2 separate regions of the Homo sapiens genome follow, and region 1 is linked to region 2. Evidence: fine-mapped expression QTL. A gene starts in region 2. The other region holds a variant in brackets. All regions are shown on one strand. Distances are between the middles of the regions.

Region 1 (5,378 bases), 22 kb before region 2:
AGGGTGCAGGTGGATGCGAAGGGACAGAGACAGTGGTGATGTGTTGAAAATAGAGGGATAAAGAGATTTTTTTTCTCACCTTTAAAGATGGAGGAAGTGGACCATGAGTCAAAGGATGTAAGTGGCCTCTGGAACCTACAAAGGGTAAGGAAACAAATTCTCCCCTGGAGATTAATGAAGAATCACAGAACTATGGACCCATATTAGATATGTGACTTACAGAATTATAAAAGAATAAATTTTTCTTGTTTTAAGCCAATCACTGTGTATAGCAATAGGAAACTGATGAAATGATTTTATGTAGAAAATTCCAAAAAAATCTACAAAAATCTCTAGAACAAGAAAAATGTAAAGGTAGCAAAGTATAAGGTCAACCTACAAAAATATCGTATATTTCATCAGCCAGGCATGGTGGCTCGTGCCTGTAATCCCAGCACTTTGGGAGGCCAAGGCAGGCAGATCACTCAAGCTCAGGAGTTTGAGACCAGGCTGGGTAACATGGTGAAACCCCATCTCTACAAAACACAAAAATTTAACAGGCCATGGTGGCACATGCCTGCAGTGCCAGCTACTGGGGAAGCTGAGGTGGGAGGATGACTTAAGCCTGCAGGACACAGGTTGCAGTAGCTGAGATTGCTCCACTGCACTCCAGCCAGGATGACAGAGTAAGGCCCTGTCTCAAAATAATAATAATAATAATCTTGTATATTTCTATACACTAGCAATTTGCACATGAAACCTGATATTAAAAATAAAATACTATGTATGATTGCTCCATTAAGAAAAAGGTCAAAGAGGCCGGGTGCAGTGGCTTACACCTGTAATCCCAGCACTTTGGGAGGCCAAGGCAGGTGGACTACGAGGTCAGGAGATCGAGACTATCCTGGCTAACACGGTGAAACCCCATCTCTACTAAGAAAATACAAAAAAATTAGCCAGGTGTGGTGGCGGGTGCCTGTAGTCCCAGCTACTGGGGAGGCCGAGGCAGGAGAATGGCGTGAACTCAGGAGGCGGAGCTTGCAGTGAGCTGAGATCGCGCCACTGCACTCCAGCCTGGGCGACAGAGCAAGACTCCGTCTCAAAAAAAAAAAAAAAAAAAGGGGGGGGGCAAAGAAATACATGTGAAACAAAACATTCATAGAACTGTTATGTTACAACTACCAAATGCTGATAAAAGAAATCAAAGACAGCAAATAGAGACATATACCATATACATTTATTGGAAGACTCCATGTAAAGCAATATGAATTATACAAATCTGACACATAGGGTTAATACCTTTCCTAATTAAGGCATTCTGCAGATACTAACAAGGTTAGCAGTTATGTAGAAAGACAAAAAACCCAAACACCTAAAATAGCTAAAACATCTGACCAACAACAACAAAAGATTGGTATCACTTCATGTGATTTCAAGTCTTCTAATACAATAAAAGTATTTTTTCCCTTTCTCATATTTACAGTAAACCTAGTTTGTATTTGTCATTGTCTCGAAGCAAGAATCTGTCCCAGAAAAAAAAAAAAGAAAGAAAGAAAATTTCCATTCAAAACTAACAGGATTTAGGCCAGGCATGGTGGCTCACACCTGTAATCCCAGCCCTTTGGGAGGCTGAGGCGGGCAGATCAAATGAGGACAGCAGTTCGAGACCAGCCTGGCCAACTTGGTGAAACCCTCTCTCTACTAAAAATACAGAAATTAGCCAAGGATGGTGGCAGGCACCAGTAATCCCAGCTACTCAGGAGGCTGAGGCAGGAGACTAGCTTAAACCTGGGAGGCAGAGGTTGCAGTGAGCCGAGATTGCGCCACTGTACTCCAGCCTGGGCAACAGAGTGAGACTCTGTCTCAGAAAAGAAAAAAAAAAAAAAAACTAACAGGATTTATACTATTGGTTTTCCACAGAATTCTCCCAGTTGCAGAGTTTCCCAAACACTATTTATTAGTGTGGCTTTGCAGGGTGCAGTGGCTCACACCTGTAATCCCACCAGTTTGGGAGGCAGAGGAAGGAGGATGACTTGAGCCCAGGAGTTCCAGGCTGCAGTGAGCTATGATTGCCACTGCACTCCAACCTGGCTAACAGAGCAAGACCCTGTCTCTCAAAAAATA[T/AT]ATATATATATACAGCTTCCACTCTGCCCATCTGAGCTCTTACCTGTGTTCACACCTTTGATCCATTCCCTCCCATCTGGATTTTTTTGCTATTTTCCCTTCACTCTCCAGAGTCCAGGGCTCTCTCCTTTGCTCCCACATAGAGATAATACTCAGGTCAGGAAGACAGATTCCTGTTTATAAAAAAAGAGAACCAAGGTGTACTGTGGCACCTTTAAAACTCAAGCCCTGGGCTGGGTGCAGTGGCCCAGGCCTGTAATCCCAGCACTTTGGGATGCCGAGGCAGGCAGATCACTTGAGGTCAGGAGTTCGAGACCAGCCTGGCCAACGTGGCAATATGCTGTCTCTACTAAAAATATAAAAATTAGCCAGGTTTGGTGGTGGACGCCTGTAATCCCAGCTCCCTGGGAGTCTGAGGCAGGAGAATCACTTGAACCCGGGAGGTGGCGGTTGCAATGAGCTGAGATAGCACCACTGCACTCTAGCCTGGGTGACAGAGCGAGGCTCCGTCAAAGTGAAAGAAAAGAAAGAGAGAGAGAAAGGGAGGAAGGAAAGAGAGAAAGAGAAAGAAAGTCAGTCCATGGTTTCCAAAACATACTTCTGTTTCCATTAATTTATTAGGAATGCTCTTCCATCTGGCTGTTGATCTGTGTCCTGTGTAACATCCTTTATAACAAATGGTACACCTCAGTAAATTGTTTCTCCAAGTTGTGTAAATCACTCTAGCAATAGCAAATTCTGGGGGCAGTTTTGTGCAACTGAGCCCTCAGCCTCCTGTGAGATCTAATGCTAACTCCCTATAAATGGTGTCAAATTGAGTTCAATTAGAGAACACCCAGTTTTTATCTGATGAAAAATAGCTTGTTGGTGGGAAGTAATCCCCACACATTTTGATGACCGGAGATGAGGCATTCTGTGTTGAGCATTCACTATTGTGTTGATTGTGAGTAGAAAAAACACTTTGGTTTTTCCTCCTATCTTATACACTCACACACCCTACCCCATCCCAGAAGTGAAGATAGTGACCCATACCTGAATGAGTCAAGTCACTGCCTGCCGTCTGGCAGAATAAGGACAGCAAATGGAAGCTAACCTCTGATACCAAGAATTAGGAAATGCACATGCCTTATAGACAGTTTTCCAATTCTCATCTTCATCTGTATATTTTAAACAAATGTGATGTTTATTATAGAGAAATTAATCATAATATCCAATCAATTCATCATTCATCTGGATTGAGTGTCCCCCTCTTTCCTCATTACTGTGTGTTTCTCTACCTACCTCTCATTCTCACCTTCTTTTCCTAGCTTTTTTTTTCTCTTTATTTTTCCCCTAGGATTCTCCTCATTTCAAGCCCTTCTTCCTTCTCCTGCTCTTCCCTCTATTCCTTCTCTTCCACTTGTTCTGCTCCTTTCTCACTTCTTTCACCTCTTATTCTTCTTTCTGCCCAATATTTGTCTCCAATTTTCATATAGTTCTGCCTCTTTCTTCCCCCCGTCTCTGCTGCCCCCTAGCTTCCCCTGTTAAATCCCCTCTTCCCTGCTATATCCACCTGTCCCCTCTCTGGCATCCCCAGATCCCAGTTCTCCCCAGGCTGTGGTTCTCCCTGTGCTCTCCTTATCACTGGCTGCCCCTCTTGCTCTCCCAGCACCATGCTGCTCTGTCTGCCCTGGCTCCAAATCCCTCCTTCTCTCCCCAACTCTCCATCTGAGGAGCCTCCCCTTTTCTGCCCCTCTCCCTATCTTGCTGAACTTTATCTCTCTAGAAACCCAGTTTTTCTCTAAATTTCTCTAGTTGCTTTTCTCCCCCTGCTCCTTTCTCAGCATCTTCATGCACTGTCTCTGCAAATCCCTCATCCACCATCTACTTTGCCATCTGTTTTGTTTTGTTTTTTGTTTTTTGAGATGGAGTTTTGCTCGTCGCCCAGGCTGGAGTGCAATGGTGCGATCTTGGCTCACCGCAACCTCCGCCTCCCGGGTAAAAGCGATTCTCCTGCCTCAGTCTCCAGAGTAGCTGGGATTACAGGCATTCGCCACCATGCCTGGCTAATTTTGTATTTTTTAGAGACAGGGTTTCTCCATGTTGGTCAGGCTGGTCTCAAAACTCCTGACCTCAGGTGATCTGCCCGCCTCAGCCTCCCAAAGTGCTGGAATTACAGGCGTGAGCCATCGCACCCAGCTGCCGTCTGTTTATGGGTCTCCTTCATTCTTCTTTCCCATTTCACCATTTTTCTATTTCCTCTCCTCCACACATTCATAGGGAGGGGACTGCAGTCAGATCCCCACCTCAAGAGCCCATTTCCTGTGGGATGGAATTTGGGACAAGAGAAACCTTAACGTCCTGAGATAGAAGTCACGTCCCCACACTCGATATCAGGAGAAGGGGAGGCCTGGGGAGCAGAAGGGCCCCCGATCAAGGAGGAAAAAGGCAGGAGAAAGTCAGGAGAGGGGCAGGGTCTGCAGGATCCCAGGACCAGGAAGAGTTCACGGCCTCCCTGGGACTGGGGCTGCGTCGCTGCGCTCCAGGAGCTGACGAGGGAGCGGAGCAGATGGGAAGCTCCCAGGGCGGGAATCAACCTTGCGGTGAGGACTTTAAAAAAGGTGCGGGCCAGTGCAGGGGACACTGAAGGATTTGAGGCAGGAAAACTCCGCGATAAGAGCTGTCTATATGGCCCTGTGGCAGAAGCACGGGGGACACGACCCCATGGAACTGTGTCCATTAAACCTCTTTGTCTTCATAAATTACCCAGTCTCGGGTATTTCTTTATTAGCAGCGTGAGAACAGACTAATACAGTAAATTGGTAATGGTATAGAGTGGGGTGCTGCTATAAGGATACCTCAAAATGTGGAAGCAAATTTTGAACTGGGTAACAGGCAAAGGCTGGAACAGTTTGGAGGGCTCAAAAGAAGACAGGAAGACGTGGGAAAGTTTGGAGCTTCCTAGAAAATGGTTGTTGAATGGTTCTGACCAAAAAGTCCAGGCTGAAGGTGGTCTCAGATGGAGATGAGGAACTTTATTGGAACTGGAGCAGAGGTGAGCTGCAGGGGCGGAGCCCTCATGGAGAACCTCTGCTAGAGCAGTGCAGAAGTAAAATGTGGGGTTGGAGCCCCCACACAGACTACTCACTACTCGCCTAGTGCAGCCGTGAGAAAAGGGCCACCCTCCTATAGACCCCAGAATGGTAGATTCACCGACAGCTTGCACCATGTGCCTGGAAAAGTAGCAGACACAACACCAGCCTGTGAAAGCAGCCAGGAGAGGAGCTGTACCCTGC
Region 2 (5,378 bases):
AGGATGGTCTCGATCTCCTGACTTCGTGATCCGCCCACCTCGGCCTCCCAAAGTGCTGGGATTACAGGCATGAGCCACTGCATGCCCAACCTGATATTCTTTAAATTAGTATAGATTTCTAGGCCGGGCGCGGTGGCTCACACCTGTAATCCCAGCACTTTGGGAGGCCAAGGCGGGTGGATCATGAGGTCACGAGATCGAGACCATCCTGGCTAACATGGTGAAGCCCTGTCTCTACTAAAAATACAAAAAAATTAGCCAGGCGTAGTGGCGGGCGCCTGTAGTCCCAGTTACTCGTGAGGCTGAGGCAGGAGAATGGCGTGAACCTGGGAGGCGGAGCTTGCAGTGAGCCGAGATGGTGCCACTGCACTCCAGCCTGGGCAACTGAGCGAGACTCTGTCTCCAAAAAAAAAAAAAATTAGTAGAGATTTCTAATTTTGTGGACAACATAAGAAATACAAAAAATTAACCCACAGTTATTTCTATAGAAGCGTCAGATACAATATATATAATTTTTTTTTAGATGGAGTCTCACTTTATTGCCCAGGCTGGAGTGCAGTGGCACAATCTTGGCTCACTGCAACATCCGCCTCCCAGGTTCAAGTGATTCTTCTGCCTCAGCCTCCCGAGTAGCTGGGACTACAGGCACCCACCACTGTGCCCAGCTAATTTTTCTATTTTTAGTAGAGACAGGTTTTCACTATGTTGGTCAGGCTGGTCTTGAACTCCTGACCTCAGCAATCCTCCCGCCTCGGCCTCCCAAAGTGCTGGGATTACAGGCGTAAGCTACCTCACCCAGCCAGGATGAAGCTTTTGAACACCTCCCATGTGACAGGCACTTTCTAAATGTTGTACATGTACTAACGGCTATAACAACAAAAGCCCATAAAAGAACAATCTGTTCCCATCCTATTGAAGAGACAACTCTTTCTCAGACATTCTAAGAAACTTGCCCCAGGTGTGAAGGCTAAAAATGGCAGAGTAAGCGCCAGATCCCAGGAGTCTGGGCATTAGAATCAAACTTTAAGAATTAGGCCAGGCGTGGTGGCTCATGCCTGCAATCCCAGCACTTTGGGAGGCCAAGGCAGGTGGATCATTTGAGGTCAGGAGTTGAAGACCAGCCTAGCAAACATGGTGAAACCCCATCTCTACCGAAAATAAAAAAATTAGCCAGGCGTACTGGTGGGCACCTGTAATCCCAGCTACTTGGGAGGCCGAGGCAGGACAATCACTTGAACCCGGGAGGCAGAGTTTGCAGTGACCTGAGATGGTGCCACTGCACTCCAGCCTGGGTGACAAAGCGAGACTCCAGCCTGGGTGACAAAGAGAGACTCCATCTCAGAAAAAGAAAAAAAAAAACATCAAACAATAACAGATCAGCATCAAAAGTAAATTGACAGACAATGACCTAACTGAGTATAGTTAAAATAAGTTCCGGGATTAAAATCAAGAAACTGTCGCACATGTATCCCCATAACAGGTTACTATCCTTACAGCCATAGACTCACTATCATAACAGTGTAGAACAATTTTAAGGTCATGAAAATATATAAGATGTAATTTCAACTGTTAAAAGATATAAGACGTATATAAACTGATGATGCGCCTTTGATAAAAACAATAGACTTGCTCATCTGTGCACTCATCCACACACATCACATGTACACACTTATTCATATACATATATACATTCACACACATATACTCTAGTAAACATATATGTGACAACTGAAAGAGTTGTCTGTCAATAACCTCTTTTTTAGATATTTGTCTTTGTTCGTTTTTTAATGTGTCCAGGTTGCAGTGCAGTGGCTTATTCATGGCACACTACAGCCTTGAATTCCTGGCCTCAAATGACACCCTCTCCGAGTAACTCGAATGACAAGCGTGCACCACTGTGCCTGGCTGTCGTTGTTTTTGCAAATGTGCATTTCAGCATGTTTGCAACAATAAAAATGTATAAACTGTGCTCAATTCAGTTTATAAACATTATTTCAAACTATTTCAAAAAGTCAGACCATGTAAAAACATAGAAACGAGAATTCCAATCTCTATTAAATACCCGTACTGAAACATATGTTTCAAAAATTGAGATGGGGGTCTCACTATGTTGTCCAGAGTGGTCTCAAACTCCTGTGCTCAAGGAATTCTCCAGCCTGGGCCTCCGGAGAAGATGGAATTCCAGCCCCGGCCCATAAATATTAGGTTGGTGCAAAAGTGATCGCGGTTTGCCATTACTTTTGCACTAACCTAATTTTGTCCACTAAATATTTATTTAGGTGTTAGCAAAAGCCCAATGGAGGCTGAAACATCACAATCAGCAGTAAACATCAGATCGATTTCCTCTCATTTAAGGCACAGAAAAGGGGGCAGGCCTGTGAAAAGAGGGCGAGGCTTGGGGGACCGGAAAGACGTGGATCCATCTCGCGGGTGAGAACTTTACGCAGCGCGGGCCGTGTCTAGGGGTCACTGAAGGATTTGAAGCAGGCAAACTCCGCGACAGGAGCTGTCTACATGGCCCTGTGGTGAAAGACCGGGGACAGGACCAGCCTCCGAGCGATTTTAACACTCAGGGAAGCGACCGCCAGACTCTCATTAGAACGTCTGAGTTTAGTCGGGGTGGAGGGAGCGATGCGGGGATTTCAAGGTCTGTGTGACCCCTGAGATGCCGGGTACAGAAGCGCGAGGGGACTCAGCATCCCAGATTTAATCTAAACAAAGGGAAACTCACACGCCGCAGCATGACCGTCACTCCACGTAATCTGCTTCCGGGTCTCCAGGAAACTGCGCGCGCAGCTGAGAGGCGAGGCGAGGCCAGGCCCGGGTGGGATTGGGCGGAGCCTGCGCTTCCCTCCGCCTCGCTCCCAGCTCGTCTCGTTTTGGAGGCTAGACCTGCCGTGGAGACTGGAAGAACTCAGCTATCTGGAAATAGATTGTGTCCCGGCAGAGGGAAAGTTTGTTGATGATTAGATCCAGGAAAATTCCTGCTATTAAAATTAATTTTAAATCGGCTGTAGGGGCGCTCGCATGTGGTCCTAGCTACCCGGATGCTGAGGTGGGAGGATCGCTTGAGCCCATGAGGTGGAGGCTGCAGTGAGCCGAGGTCGTGCGCTGCACTCCCGCCTGGGCATGAGAGAGAAACCTTGCGCCTAATAAATACATAATCATAAATAACAAATTGGAAATAAATAATTAAAATAAATAAATATAAATGAATAATAAACACTAGTTTCCGGAATTTTAAAGTCCTTGAATTGTTTATGAAGGGGATGCAAATTAAAATATGAAATGCAAAACCCTGCCAGGGCGGAATGTGCAATTTCCTTTTTTTTTTTTTTTTTTTTTTGGAGACAGAGTTTCGTTCTTTTGCCCAGGCTGGAGTGAAGTGGCGCGATCTCGGCTCACTGCAACCTCCGCCGCCTGGGTTCAAGCGATTCTCCTGCCTCAGTCTCCCGAGTAGCTGGGATTACAGGCGCCCACCACCACACCGGGCTACTTTTTTGTACTTTTAATAGAGACAGGGTTTCTCCATGTTGGCCAGGCTGGTCTTGAACTCCTGACCTCGTGATCCGCCTGCCTTGGCCTCCCAAAATGTTGGGATTACAGGCGTGAGCCACCGCACCCGGCCAAGTTTTTTTTTTTTTTTCATATTTATATTAATCCTAGTGTATACCTGCCATTGTCTTATGGACATACTCAGGTCACAACTTTTTTTTTTTTTTTTTTTTTTTTTTTGAGATGGTCTCCCTCTGTCTTTCAGGCTGAAGTGCAGACAGCTCACTGACTGCAGCCTCGACCTCCTGGCATCAAGTGATCCTCCCATCTCAGCCTCCCAAGTAGCTGGGACTACAGGCACACGCCACAATGCCCAGTCCCATGTCACAAAATTTTGTCTCCAAACAGCACTCATTTATTTGTCCCCTAAAGTTTTCACCAGAGCAAAACAGGGAAGAAATGTATTAAACATAGAATTTGGAGGCAATGTAGGAAAAAAATGTAAAAATATATATACATACAAAAAATATAAAAATATACATGCTAGGTGTGAATTGTAACTAAGTTTCCAGTATGGGTAGTGGGTATCCCCGCCCCAGCCCTACCCTTTAGCAATCATGACACCCCAAGCCAGTCACCTATCCCAGTTCTCTGAAGCCACTTTTGGACCAGCTGGAAAAGTATACCCTGCTTTCCCCCACAGAGCCTCATTATATAATAAACACTCTCAAACCATATCAGTGTATGGGATCATCATTCTCAAGATCCAAGCCAAACCTTAGGGGGACTTCAAACAAGTTCCAGAAGAGTGGTCAAAAATTCAAATTACCAAAAGAGTTGTGAGGGTGACTATATGAAGTTTCTAGTTAATGTACCAAAACAAAATTCCCTTTCTGTGTGTGACTTAAAAAGAAGATGGGTGAACATTAATATTTTCAAATGATGTCACTGAACACTAGAAGTACAAAAAGAAATTGTGTTACAGTATTATTATTATTTTTTTTTTTTTGAGACGGAGCCTTGCTCTGTCACCAGGCTGGAGTGCAGTGGGGTGATCTCAGCTCACTGCAACCTCTGCCTCTTGGGTTCAAGCGATTCTCCTGCCTCAGCCTCCCAAGTAGCTGGGATTACAGGTGCACACCACCAGGCCCAGCTAATTTTTTTTTTTTGTATTTTTAGTAGAGACAAGGTTTCACCATGTTGACCAGGATGGCCTCAATCTCCTGACCTCGTGATCCACCCAATGCAGCCTCCCAAAGTGCTGAGATTACAGGCGTGAGCCACCAGGCCCGGCCATGTTACAGTATTTTTGCCCTCAACCCATACTTTATTTCCTAATATTTGTCATATTACTATATATTTTTGCTGCATGAAAATGAAGGTGCACACCATAGTTCTTATTTGGCACACAAGAAAGAGGCATGTAGAAACACAATACAGGGCATACTCTTTAACACTCACACACATTTGAGGGTGTACAAGGCTGAAATTGTACTATTAAAGTGATTTTGACTTTACCCACATAAACATCCTACACCAGAGTACAGAGAAACTAACTCAAGTACTAAGTGTAATTACTCAACATCATACTTACTTAAGTATATTGCACCCAGAAGCGTATGTTGTTTTATGTCTCACACACATACACACACACACACTTTTCTGGCTGCTTCAACCTTAAAATCATAATGGGTTATTATTCTCTACTATAAAGTATCCTCCTGAGGTAAGATTAAACAACGCTGGTAGAAAGGATGTAATTCATTCACACTAAGAAAAATTTAAACTAGGCCGGGCGCTGTGGCTCACACCTATAATCCCAGCACTTTGGGAGGCCAAGGCCAGTGGATCACTTGAGGTCAGGAGTTTGAAACCGGCCTGGC

What was found. PIP is the estimated chance that this variant, and not a neighbour inherited with it, causes the effect.
Region 1: its variant is fine-mapped to the expression of ZNF880 in anterior cingulate cortex (GTEx, PIP above 0.99).

The regions. Positions count from the first base shown.
Region 1 is chr19:52,389,557-52,394,934 of GRCh38, reverse strand. It overlaps ZNF528-AS1 (ZNF528 antisense RNA 1), which reads left to right. Exons shown (of 7, transcript NR_125345.1): 6 at 88-144. It also overlaps a transcript of ZNF880 not described here. Among named protein-coding and RNA genes, the nearest start is that of ZNF528-AS1, 5.5 kb to the left of the region's middle. The variant T/AT (reference allele first, on the strand shown) is at 2,104.
Region 2 is chr19:52,367,331-52,372,708 of GRCh38, reverse strand. It overlaps ZNF880 (zinc finger protein 880), which reads right to left and starts at 2,786. Exons shown (of 4, transcript NM_001145434.2): 1 at 2,732-2,786. The coding sequence starts at 2,743. ZNF610 (zinc finger protein 610) reads right to left here. Exons shown (of 6, transcript NM_001161425.2): 6 at 4,931-5,378. RefSeq lists enhancers at 2,345-2,484, 2,685-2,794, 2,805-3,104.